3 separate regions of the Homo sapiens genome follow, and regions 1 and 3 are each linked to region 2. The links come from fine-mapping of genetic effects on gene expression. A gene starts in region 2. Each other region holds a variant in brackets. All regions are shown on one strand. Distances are from middle to middle.

Region 1 (4,237 bases), 79 kb after region 2:
CTTTTTTTTTTGGATTTTAGTAGAGACGGGGCTTCACCATGTTGGCCAGGCTGGTCTCGAACTCCTGACCTCAGGTGATCCACCCACCTCCCTGCCTCAGCCTCCCAAAGCGTTGGGATTACAGGCGTGAGCCACCGCGCCCGGCCTGTCTCTGCCTTTGACCTGAGAGCAAACCAGGTCGCCTCCAGATCTGTATGTTCAGTGCCAGGCCTGACCCTTGTAACTGGCTCTTTTTTTTTGGGAAACAGTGTCTCACCCGGTTGCCCAGGCTGGAGCACAGTGGCGCAATCATAGCTCACTGCAGCCTCCACCTGCCGGCCTCAAGCACTCCTCCTGCCTCATCCTCTTGAGTAGCTGGGACAATAGGTACGCGCCACCACGCCTGACTAATTTTTAATTTTTTTGCAGAGACGGGGGCAGTCTCACTACATGGCCCAGGTTTGTGATCAGCTCTTGGTGGAAGGAGGTGGCTTCTAGCTGGGCTATGCCACCCCAGGCTGTGGAGTTCCAGGTGAACCTGGTCCTGACAGGAGTCAGGGCCTAGGGTCTCAGGCCAGGTTGTGGCGTGGCCTTGCTGAATCCTATCACTGTCCCTGCTGAGCAGCCATACTGGGCCCTGTGGTGGTTCAGATGGATGGTCCTGACAGCACGGTCTGCACAGCGTCTGACTCACTTTGTGGCCTGGGCAAGTCCCTGGCATCTCTGCACCTCAGCTTCCCAGCTGTACAATGAGGTGGGGTAAGATTAGATCAATATTTTTTCTTTCTTCTTCTTTTTTATTTCTTAGGAGATGGGGTCTCAGCCAGGCACAGTGGCTCCCACCTGTAATCCCAGCACTTTGGGATGCTGGGGTGGGAGGATCACTTGAGGTCAGGAGTTTGAGACCAGCCTGGCCAACATGGTGAAACCTCGCCTCTACTAAAAATACAAAGAATTAGCTGGGTGTGGTGGTGCATGCCTGAAGTCTCAGCTACTCGGGAGGCTAAGGCATGAGAATCGCTTGAACTCAGGAGGTGGAGGTTGCAGTAAGTCAAGATTGCAAGATTGACTCCAGCCTGAGCGACAGAGCGAGTCTCTGTCTTGGGAAAAAAAAAGAAGGCCGGGAGCAGTGGCTCACACCTGTAATCTCAGCACTTTGGGGAGCCAGGGTGGGTGGATCATGAGGTCAGGAGTTCGAGACCAGCCTGGCCAACATGGGGAAACCCTGTCTCTACTAAAAATAGAAAAAACAGCTGGGCGTGGTGGCAGGTGCATGTAATCCCAGCTGCTTGGGAAGCTGAGGCAGGAGAATCAGTTGAACCCAGGAGGCAGAGGTTGCAGTGAGCCGAGATCGTGCCACTGCACTCCAGCCTGGGCAACAGAGCGAGACTCTGTCTTGGGGGGAAAAAAAAGAAGAGATGAGGTCTCATTCTGTCATCCAGGCAGGAGTACAGTGGCATAATCATAGCTCACTGCAGCCGTAAACTCTGGGGCTCAGGTGATCCTCCGGCCTCAGCCTCCTGTGTAGCTGGGACTACAAGTGCCTACTACCACGCCTGGCTAATTTTTAGAAAAAACTTTTTGGTCTATGGCCATACCACCCTGAATGCGCCTGATCTTGCCTGATCTCAGAAGGGAAGCAGGGTTGGGCCTGGTTAGTAGTTGGATGGGAGAAAAAACTTTTTGTAGAGACACGGTCTCATTATGTTGCCCAGGTTTGTCTCAAACTCCGGGACTCAAGCAATCCTCCCACTTAGGCCTCCCAAACTGCTGGGATTAGAGACGTGAGCCACCACACCTGGCCAATCAGTGTTTCTTTTTCTTTTTCTTTTTGAGACAGAGTCCTGCTCTGTCATCCAGCTTGGAGTGCAGTGGTGTGATCTCGACTCACTGCAACCTCTGCCTCCTGGGCTGAAGCCATCCTCCCACCTCAAACGCCCAAGTAGCTAGGACTACAGGCGTGCGCCACCATGCCGGCTAATTTTTCTTTTTCTTTTTTTTTTTTTTTTTT[TG/G]AGACAGAGTCTTGTTCTGTTTCCCAGGCTGGAGTGCAGTGGTACAGTCTTGGCTCACTGCAACCTCTGCCTCCCAAGTTCAAGTGATCCTCCTGTCTCAGCCCGCCTAGTAGCTGGGATTACAGGCATGCATCACCATGCCTGGCTAATTTTTGTATTTTCAGTAGAGATGGGGTTTTGCCATGTTGACCAGGCTGGTCTCCAACTCCTGACCTCAGGTGATCCGCCCACCTTGGCCTCCCAAAGTGCTGGGATTACATGGGTGAGCCACCGTGCCTGGCCCTAATTTTTCTATTTTTAGTTGAGACAGGGTTTCACCATGTTGGTCAGTCTGGGCTCGAACTCCTGTTCTCAAGTGATCTGCCTGCCTTGGCCTCCCAAAGTGCTGGGATACAGTGTTTCTTAATCGGGTGCACATCATAGTCACCCGTGAGTAATTTCTCCCAAGTCCTATCATACACCTTAATCGGAACCATCATGCCAGGTGGCCCCCAGGTGCCTGGTGAAAGGTTCTGTATACCCTGCAGATGCCAGCAGAACGGAGGGGGTCCAGCCAGTCTCTGGCAGTGCCCGCCTGCCTCACCCCTGTCAGTCACATGCTACCCCTCTGCTACCCAGGAGGCCCCCATGATCCTCCCTGAGGCCCAGCCTGCCTCTTGTCCTTCTAGCTGACCTCATACACTCATTGGTGCTATGGCAGGGCCTTCCCTCTGTAGGGCACCTGCAGGTTTCGGGGGGCCTCTTGGGGATACCTGTCCTTGTTCATGGAGACCTCAGGCTCCCTGGGGAGGCACCAGGGTGGAGAGGGGCTATATTTTTTTCAAGGTGGTAAGCCATCTATTGCATGCCCACCTGGACCACATCTATCTCTGCCTTTAAAAAATTTATTAAAATTTTTTTTTTAGAGACAGGGTCTTGCTCTGTTGCTCAGGCTGGAGTGCAGTGGTACAATCATAGCTCACTGCAGCCTCCAACTCCTGGTGTCTCTGTCTTTTTCATTTTTTTTTTGAGATGGAGTCTTGCTCTGTCTCCCAGGCTGGAGTGCAGGGGTGTGATCTCAGTTCACTGCAACCTCCGCCTTCCGGGTTCAGCAATTCTCCTGCCTCAGTCCCCCAAGTAGCTGGGATTGCAGGTGCCCACAACCACGCCCAGCTAATTGTTGTATTTTTAGTAGAGATAGGGTTTCACCATGTTGCTCAGGCTGGTCTTGAACTCCTGACCTTAAGTGATCTGCTTGCCTCCCAAAGTGCTGGGATTATAGGCGTGAGCCACTGCACCCGGCTCTACCTTTTTTTCAAAAGGAACAGTCTAGTCCCCACAGGGCAGAAGGGTGGCTTCCTTGCCTCCGACTCACCTGGCACCTTGGCATCATTGCAGATTTCTGCAAAGGGTCTGAAAAAGAAAGAAAAGAGGTGGCAGTTAGAAAATGAGGTTTTCCCCTCCTTTTTTTTTTTTTTTTTTTTTTTTTTGAGATGGAGTCTCGCTTGGTCACCCAGGCCGAAGTGCAGTGGCACAATTTTGGCTGACGGCAGCCTCCACCTCCTGGGTTCACACCATTCTCCTGCCTCAGCCTCCTGAGTAGCTGGGACTACAGGTGCCCGCCACCACGCCCAGCTAAGTTTTATATTTTTAGTAGATACGGGGTTTCGCCGTGTTGGCCAGGCTGGTCTTGAACTCCTGACCTCAGGTGATCTGCCTGCCTCCGCCTCCCAAAGTGCTGGGATTACAGGCATGAGCCATTGCGTTTGGCCGTTTTCCCCTCCTTCTCACCTGCCCTCTGAGATGTGGTGCTGCTGCTGCTGCAGGAGCCTGGTAACACCGAAATAAAAATGGGGAACACACCGTCCCGACAGAGCATTCCCCATATAGGCCCTGGACGATGGACCTGGGCTGGCAAATCATTCCTCCAGGTCTGCTGTCCTCATCTATAAAGCGAGGATATTGTCTGACCAAGGGATCAGAAACGTGTGCCCAGATTTATGCAAGTGGATAGTCATCACAGCATTATTATCAATTACTATTTTTGAGACAGTCTTACTCTTTTGCCCAGGCTGGAGTTCAGTGGTGCCATCCTAGCTCACGGCAGCCTCAAAGTTCTGGGCTCAATCAGTCCTTCTGCCTCAGCTTCCCAGTAGTTGGGAATGCAGGTGCACACCACCATGCCCGTCTAATTTATTTTTTAATTAATTAATTTTTTTTTTTTTTGAGATGGAGTCTTGCTCTGTTGCCCAGGCTGTTGTGCTATG
Region 2 (4,237 bases):
TCTCCTGCTCCAGTGAAAGTCTGCTTATCTACACAGTACCTTTCCCAGCTTTCAAATCCTTTGTGAAATAAAATAGGGTACAAATACATTAAATAAAGCTGACCCAGGGCCTTGTGCAGCGCCTGGCTCAAATAAAGACCCAAAATTCACCGAATGAATGAAAGAAATAGACAGGTAGTTACACTTCCGTGTGTGTATGCACTGTTACTCTTCTGCACCCACAGGACATGAAAATGCCTTGCGCTTATTCTGTAGGTCCTCTAAAACCATTTTATGTGTATATCAAGGGCTCAGATATCATTTTGGAATAATAATACTTAACATTTCTGGAGCTCTTTAAACCTTTTCTAAAGATACTTCATACCAATCCAAGTGCTTGCTCCATATTAGAGATGAGAGGATTGAAGCAGAGAGGACAAAAGCCATCGGAAACAGTTTTGGAGCTCACATGGGGCAATGTCATCAGTGGGGGGAACTGGTGGTGGGGCCCTGGTCTGCAATCTGTGGTCTTGTGCTCTTTCCCTCAAACCATATCATTTTCCCAATGACAGTGCACAAAAAAATAGCACCACTGTGACTAATGACTTTTTTCCAATTGCAGAGATTACTTCTAGATTTTTGCTCATTTTCCCATGGCATTGTGTGTATGGGGCTTGCAATCCCAGCACAACACTATCTGCTTCCCAAGAGCATCACCTAGCCCAGCCTGTTGAGGGCCTCAATTGTTGAGGGCCTCCATTGTCCTGGGACTCCGCATACCACATGCTCCTGGATCTGGCACTACCTTAGTCCCTGCCTCCTAGAAGCCATCTTCGGTGTCCAGTAATGCTTCACCTTCCCTCCTCTTTATTTTTTATTTGTAGAGATGGAGTCTGTGTTGCCCAAGCTGGTCCCAGACTCCTGGCCTCAAACCATCCTCCTGCCTTGACCTCCCAAAGTGCTGGGATTACAAGTGTAAGCCACCACACCTGGCATCGTTTCCCTTCTCTTGCTTTTTTTGTTTTTGTTTGTTTGTAGGTACGGTCTTACTCTATCACACCCAGGCTGGAGTACAGTGGCACAATTACAGCTCACTGCAGCCTCAACCTCCAGGGCTCAAGCAATCCTCCCAACTCACCTTCCTGAGCACCTGGGACTACAGGCACACACCACCAAGCCTGGCTAATTTTCATTTTTGTAGAGGCAGGGTCTCACTGTTGCCCTGACTAGTCTCTAACTGCTGGGATCAAGCAATCCTCCCACCTCAGCATCCCAAACTGCTGAGATTACAGATGTGAGCCACCATGCCTGGTATCTTCTCCCGTCTCTTGAGTGTCATTTCAGGTGTTGACATGATAGTATCACACACATTAAGTAAGACCCGTGGAAGCCCCTGTGCACCAGAGCACAGCAGCCTGTGAGTGAAAGCCATGGGATGCCAGGTGACCGTGCCTACATCTATGAACTGGCCTGCCCCTTATGTGCAGACAGCTCCTTGCCTTGTTCCTTAGGTAGCTGGAGACTAGGTGTGGGCAACCACTACAGCATCCTGTTGGATTCTCTAGAAGACATCTTTTTCTTTTCTTTTTTTTATTCATCCAACCCAAAATGCCTTTGTTTTTCCAGTCGTAGTAGGGACGGGGCCTCGCTATGTTGCCCAGGCTGGCCTCCAACTCCTGCCCTCAAGCGATCCTCCCTCCCAATGTGTTGGGATTACAGGCTCGAGCTACGGTGCCTGGTCAGACACACCATCAGCTCTCGGGGCTCCAGGGTCCCCCTCCCACGGCCCACCCTCCCTCCTGTCTTCGGTAAAAGTGGGACATGGCGATGGGAGTAAATCACCCCAGTGACTACTGGGCGGAGGGTGTAGGGGGTGGGGAAGCACACCTAGTGGGTGTAATTGACAGGGGTTGAAGGTGGGTGGGTAGGGGTGCAGGTGGGCGGGGGAGTTGCAGGTGGGCGGGGGAGGGGCGCAAGTCCGCGGGCCCCGCCCCCAACCCCGGCCCCGCCCACCCGCCGAGGACCGCTATGCCCCGCGCCCGCTTCTCCCCCGCGCCCCTCCCCACGCCCCGCGGCCCGCCGCCCGCCCGGGTACCTCCTGTGGCAGCAGGGGCAGCGCGTGCCCCGCCTGCGTGGCCGTCGGCGTGGCCGGCTCCAGAAAGTCGTCTTCGGCGTCAGAGCTGGACATGGCACCGTCCTGACGACGGCTGTCTGGCTCCCGCCCCGTGACTACCACCATCCCTCTGGCTCTGGGCAGTGGGCGCGGCTTCGGGCGGGCGGAGGCGGCGGCCCCGGGCACTCCCTACCGCCGAGCAGCGCCTGGCATGACGCGGCCGGCTGCGGGCTGGCCGGAGGGGGGCGAGAGGCAGTGCGCAGGCGGGAGGGCGGTGGCTCCCTCAACGCCGACCCGCTCGCGCCCAGCTGGGGCCTGACCCGACCGCCTCCCGCTACTGGCCGACGCCGCGCTGGTTCCGCCCTGATTGGCAGGAAGCTCGCCCAGTCGAAGAGCAGGCAGCGCCAGCGGCCGGCGCCTGAGTGGTCCCTGGGTTGGGGGGGGGGGGGGGGGGCGGCCTGCGAGCCTGCCGTGCACTGATTGGTCCTCTGGCCAGCGGGCGCGCCCTCTCCGAGAGACCCGGCGGTGGTGCGCCGCTACGCTCTCATAACTGGGCGTCGGAGTCTGCCGTGAAGAGGGTTCTCACCCGCGTCAGGGTAGACGCCTTATCCCTTCACACAGGGGGTCACGACTTACTCGTGTGTCTGGCCCCAGAGCAGCGGGTCCTTGTCTCCTCAATGGAAGGCCTGAGCAGCCTTTCCTGGAGGATGTGGCGGGAGGAGGGCTGAGGTGGCTGCGGACACGCCACCGCGGCTGGCCCCGCCCCGAGCCGCAGGGCACCGCCCGGGTGTCCAGTTCTTCCTCACTCGCTCGCGCAGAAATCCGAACGAGAAAACCCAAAATAGGAGCGCTTGAGTTCAATGAATAATGACAGTGACTCCCCACCGTGACCGTTTTTCCACCGGGACACACAGATGGAGACAGGCCCTTCCCCAAGATGCTCCCGGCTCCCTGGGAGGCGGAGTCCAGCCCTAGAGGCTCTATCAGCGCAGGGAGTCTCCTGGGGGTCAAGGTTCTTAGCCCGTTCAAGCCATTTTCTCCTTTCTTTAAAAGACAAAGTCTCACTCTGTTACCCAGGCTGAAGTGCAGTGGCGCAATCATAGCTCATTGCAACCCCTGGGCTCAAGCAATCCTCCCGCCCCAGCCTCCCGAGTAGCTGGGACCACAGACGCGCACCACCACACTCAGCTGATTTTTTAAAATTTTGGCCGGGCGCAGTGGCTCACGCCTGTAATCCTGGCTCTTTGGTAAGCGATGCGGGTGGATCACCTGAGGTCAGGAAGTTGAGACCAGCCTGGCCAACATGGTGAAACCTCATCTCTACTAAAAATACAAAATTAGCCAGGCATGGTGGCACACCTGCAATCCCAGCTACTAGGGAGGCTGAGGCAGGAGAATCGCTTGAACCCAGGAGATGGAGATTGCAGTGAGGCGAGATCACGGCCACTATACTCCAACCTGGGCAACAAGAGCGAAACTCCGTCTCAAAAAAGAAAAAAAAATTTTTTTTTTTTTTTTTTTTTAAGAAATGGGGTCTTGTCATGTTGCCCAGGCTGGTCTCAAACTCCTTGCCTCAAGCTGTCCTCCCTCGTCAGCCTCCCAAAGTGCTGGGATCGCAGGCGTGTGCAACCATGCTTCTCCTTTTCAAACCGTTTTCACACCCAGTTCCTCATCTCATTCTCACAGTGTAGTGACAGAAAAGAAAACTGAGTCGTAGATTAGACAGCTCCAGGATGGCAAAGATGAGCTGGTGGCATAGCACTTCCTCTGTTAGACCATCGCACTCCCAGCTGCAGGAGTGTCCTAGGTCTGTGTTTTCTCCAACTTCAGTTGCATCAAAATCCCTGGAGGGAGACCTTGTTTAAACACAGATGAAAAGGAATGAAATCACGTCATCTGCAGCAACGTGGATGGACGTCATTATGTTAAGTGAAATAAGCCAGGCACAGAAAGACATAAATATTGCATGTTCTTATCTGTGGCAGCTAAAACAAATCGATCTCATAAATTTAGAGAGTAGAAAGAAACCAGAGGCTGGGAACGGTTGGGTGAGAAATGAAGAGATTTAGGTTAATGAAGGACATACAGTTAGATAAAAAGGTTTATGTTCTATGGTTCAAAAGCAGAGTAGTGACTATAATTAAC
Region 3 (4,237 bases), 130 kb after region 2:
CTCTGATACTCTCTTCAAAAGGCGGAGCCCAGTTCCTATCTCTTTTAGTGTGGGCTGGGTTACGTGATTCCCTTCTGACAGATAGGAAAAAGCAAAAGTGATGGCTTGCAACTTTGCAAGCTACATCATAAAAGGTACTATGGCTTCCTCCTTGCTCACTCTTTGATTACTCACTTGGGAAAGCCAGCTGTCACACCATGACACCTAAGCAGCCTGTAGGGAGGCTCATGTGACAGGAACTGAGGCCTCCGGTCAGCAGTCACATGAGTGAGCCATCTTGGAAACAGGCTTTAGGTGACTGCAGTCTCAGAGGACAGCTTGACTGCAATGTCACGAGACACCCTGAGCCCAGATGACCCAGCTATGCCACTCCTGAATTCCTGACTCACAGAAATGGAGTTCCTAAGTAAATATTTTATTTATTTATTTATTTATTTATTTTTGAGACAGAGTCTCACTCTGTCACCCAGGCTGGAGTGTGGTGGTGTGATCTTGGCTCACTGTAACCTCTCCCTCCCTGGCTCAAGTGATTCTCCCACATCAGCCTCCTAAGTAGCTGGGACCACAGGTGTGCACCATCACACCTGGCTAATGTTTGCATTTTCTGTAGAGATGGAGTCTCACTATGTTGCCCACGTTGATCTTAAACTGCTGGACGCAAGTGATCTTCCCACCTCGGCCTCTCAAAGTGTTGGGATTACAGGCATGAGCCACTGTGCCTGGTCCTAAGTATTTATTTTCAGCCACTAGGTCTGGAGTAATTTGTTACATAGCAGCAGATAAATAATACACGTATTTTCTATAGCGATCATATTTATAATTTAAATTGAATTAAAAAGGTTGGGAGCAGTGGCTCATGCCTGTAATCCTAGCACTTTAGGAGGCTGAGGCTGGAAGATCGCTTGAGCCCATGAGTTTGAGACCAGCCTGGGCAATATGGCAAAACACTTTCTCTACAAAATACAAAAAAAAATTAGCTGGGTGTGGGCCGGGTGCGGTGGCTCATGCCTGTAATCCCAGTACTTCGGGAGGCTGAGGCCGGCGGATCACGAGGTCAGGAGATCAAGACCATTTTGGCTTTAATAGATGGTGAAACCTCGTCTCTATTAAAAATACAAAAAATTTAGCCAGACGTGGTGGCAGGCGCCTGTAGTCCCAGCTACTCAGGAGGTGGAGGCAGGAGAATGGCATGAACCCAGGAGGCAGAGCTTGCAGTGAGCCGAGATCGCGCCACTACACTCCAGCCTGGGCAACAGAGTGAGACTCTATCTCAAAAAACAAAATAAACAAACAAAAATTAGCTGGGTGTGGTGGCGGCGTGCACCTGTAGTCCCAGATACTTGGAGACTATGGTGGGAGAATCACCTGAGTCAAGGAATTCGAGGCTGCAGTGAGCTGTGACTGTGCCACTGTACTCCAGCCTGCATGACAGAGTAAGATTTTGCCTCAAAAAACATTTTTTTTGGCCGGGTGCAGTGGCTCATGCATTTTGGGAGGCCGAGGCAGGCGGATCACGAGGTCAAGAGATCAAGACCATCCTGGCCAACATGGTGAAACCCTGTCTACTAAAAATACAAAAATTAGCTGGGCATGGTGGCATGTGCCTGTAGTCCCAGCTACTCGAGAGGCTGAGGCAGGAGAATCGCTTGAACCCAGGAGGCGGAGGTGGCAGTGAGCCGAGATCACACCACTGCACTCCAGCTCAAAAAAAAAAATTTTTTTTTTTAATTAACAAGTTCTAGTATCTAAAATGAGCAAAATCGTCACGTGT[G/A]GTGGATCACACCTGTAATCCCAGCACTTTGGGATGCCAAGGCACGTGGATCATCTGAGGTCAGGAGTTCAAGACCAGGCTGCAGTGAGTCAAGATTGCACCACTGCACTCCAGCCGGGGAGACAGAGTGAGACTCCATCTCAAAAAAAAAAAAAAAAAAAAAGAAAAAAAAAAAAGTAAATATGCGTTTGAAAAGAACAGCATCAGCCAAGTACAGTGGCTCACGCCTGTAATCCCAGCACTTTGGGAGGCCAAGGGTGGAGGATAGCTGAGCCCAGGAGTTTGAGACCACCCTGGGCAACATGGTGAAACCCTGTCTCTACAAAAAATACAAAAATTAGCCAACTGTGGTAGCACAACCTGTAGTCTCAGCTACTTAGGAGGCTGGGGGAAGGATTGCTTGAGTCTGGGAGGTCGAGGCTGCAGTGAGCCATGATTGCGCCACCTCACTCCAGCCTGGGCAACAGAGCAAGAACCTCTCTCAAAAAAGAAAAAAAAAACATGCAAAAAGAAAACAAAACAGAACAGCATCATTTCCTTATCATTAGTTTGAAGGAAGGGAATCACTGGTAAAAGTTTCCATTTTCTTTTTTTTGAGATGGAGTCTCACTCTGTTGCCCAGGCTGGAGTGCAGTGGCATGATCTTGGCTCACTGCAAGCTCCACCTCCCGGGTTCACACCATTCTCCTGCCTCAGCCTCCCAAGTAGCTGGGACTACAGGCACCCGCCACCATGCCTGGCCAATTTTTTGTATTTTTTAGTAGAGATGGGGTTTCACCATGTTAGCCAGGATGGTCTCAATCTCCTGACCTCGTGATCCGCCCGCCTCAGCCTCCCAAAGTGCTGGGATTACAGGTGAGAGTCACTGTGCCTGGCCAAAAGTTTTCATTTTCAAAAAAAGCATTAAAATGTAGTGTGAGGCCAGGCATGATGGCACATTCCTGTAATCCCAGCACTTCCGGAAGCTGAAATGGATAGCCTGAGCCCAGGAGGTTAAGGCTGCAGTGAGCAGTGTTTGTGTCGCTGCACACCAGCAGCCTGGGCAACAGAAGAAGAGCCTGTCTCAAAACAACAAAACATGGTTTACCACAACCAACAGGAAAATTCTGGATAAAGCTATGTATGAAATATTTACTGCTCTGCTCAACAAGGTAGTGCAGAGGTCAAGGGCAAAAGTCCTGGGGTCAGGTCACCTAGTCTGCTGTCTAATTAGCTGTGTCATCTTTGGAAAGGTACTTGAACTCTCTGTGCCTTATAATTCATTTTCTAAAATGTGGGCAGGGCGTGGTGGCTCATGCTTGTAATCCCAGCACTTTGGGAGGCCAAGGCGGGTGAATCATCTGAGGCCAGGAGTTCGAGACCAGCCTGGTAAACAAGGTGAAACGTGGTCTCTATTAAAAACACAAAAATTAGCTGGGTGTGGTAGTGGGCACCTGTAATCCCAGCTACTGGGGAGGCTGAGGTTGGAGAATTGCTTGAACCCAGGAGGCAGAGGTTGCAGTGAGCCGAGATCATGCCACTGCACTCCAGCCTGGATGACAGAACAAGACTCTGTCTCAAAAACAAACAAACAAAAAGTGGATAGCAGTATCTACCTCGAAGAATTGTTATGGGATTGACAGTGCAGAGAACCTAGCAACTATAAAATAAAAAAAAGTTTCAGGACCCTCTATAAATTTATCATGCCAGGAGGGAAGTTACACCCTGACCGAGTCACATAGCATGTTTGCAACTTCTGCTTCTGTTTTTTTTTTGAGACGGAGTCTCGCTCTGTCGCCCGGGTCAGAGTGCAGTGGCAGGATCTCAGCTCACTGCAAGCTCCACCTCCCGGGTTCACGCCATTCTCCTGCCTCAGCCTCCCAAGTAGCTGGGACTACAGGTGCCCGCCACCAAGCCCAGCAAATTTTTTGTGTTTTTAGTAGAGACGGGGTTTCACTGTGTTAGCCAGGCTGGTCTCGATCTCCTGACCTCATGATCCACCTGCCTCAGCCTCCCAAAGTGCTGGGATTACAGGTGTGAGCCACCGCGCCCGGCCACTTCTGCTTCTTAAATTATAATTTATTCCTTCCTTATTATTTTCATTCGGTAAATGACTATGAGAGACCAGAGACTAGTCCTACTCTCCTTCCAATCACTCATCTTTATTACACATTAACTGCCTCCTTTATTGTTCTGTACCTCACACCAGATGGCACAAAAGACCCCATGACTTACATCTTCAGTGTAGAAGGTAAAATACACCTTTCCCGGAAAAAAGACCACCTAGTCTGGGCGCCGTCACTCATGCCTGTAATCCCGGTACTTTGGGAGGCTGAGGTGAGTGGACTGCTTAAGCCCAGGAATTTGAGACTGGCCTGGGCAATGTGGTGAAACCCTGTCTCTACAAAAAATACAAAAATTAGTCAGGTGTGTTGGTGCACGCCTGTAGTCCCAGCTACTAGGGATGCTGAGGTGGGAGGATCACTT

Alleles and levels. Alleles are on the strand shown, and positions count from the first base shown. SD is a standard deviation of normalised expression in the study named. Not every link is listed here.
As copies of TG replace G in region 1, the expression in macrophages of the gene that starts at base 2,402 in region 2 goes down (moderate effect, 0.57 SD a copy in Nedelec 2016).

Evidence for each region. PIP is the estimated chance that this variant, and not a neighbour inherited with it, causes the effect.
Region 1: its variant is fine-mapped to the expression of KCTD7 in macrophages (Nedelec 2016, PIP 0.95).
Region 3: its variant is fine-mapped to the expression of KCTD7 in whole blood (TOPMed, PIP 0.93).

What each region holds. Positions count from the first base shown.
Region 1 is chr7:66,548,021-66,552,257 of GRCh38, reverse strand. It overlaps the pseudogene RABGEF1P1. Among named protein-coding and RNA genes, the nearest start is that of LINC03011, 57 kb to the right of the region's middle. The variant TG/G (reference allele first, on the strand shown) is at 1,991.
Region 2 is chr7:66,627,046-66,631,282 of GRCh38, reverse strand. It overlaps KCTD7 (potassium channel tetramerization domain containing 7), which reads right to left and starts at 2,402. Exons shown (of 4, transcript NM_153033.5): 1 at 2,075-2,402. The coding sequence starts at 2,218. RefSeq lists silencers at 2,042-2,611, 3,622-3,821.
Region 3 is chr7:66,496,294-66,500,530 of GRCh38, reverse strand. No RefSeq gene overlaps it. Among named protein-coding and RNA genes, the nearest start is that of LINC03011, 4.8 kb to the right of the region's middle. The variant G/A (reference allele first, on the strand shown) is at 1,772.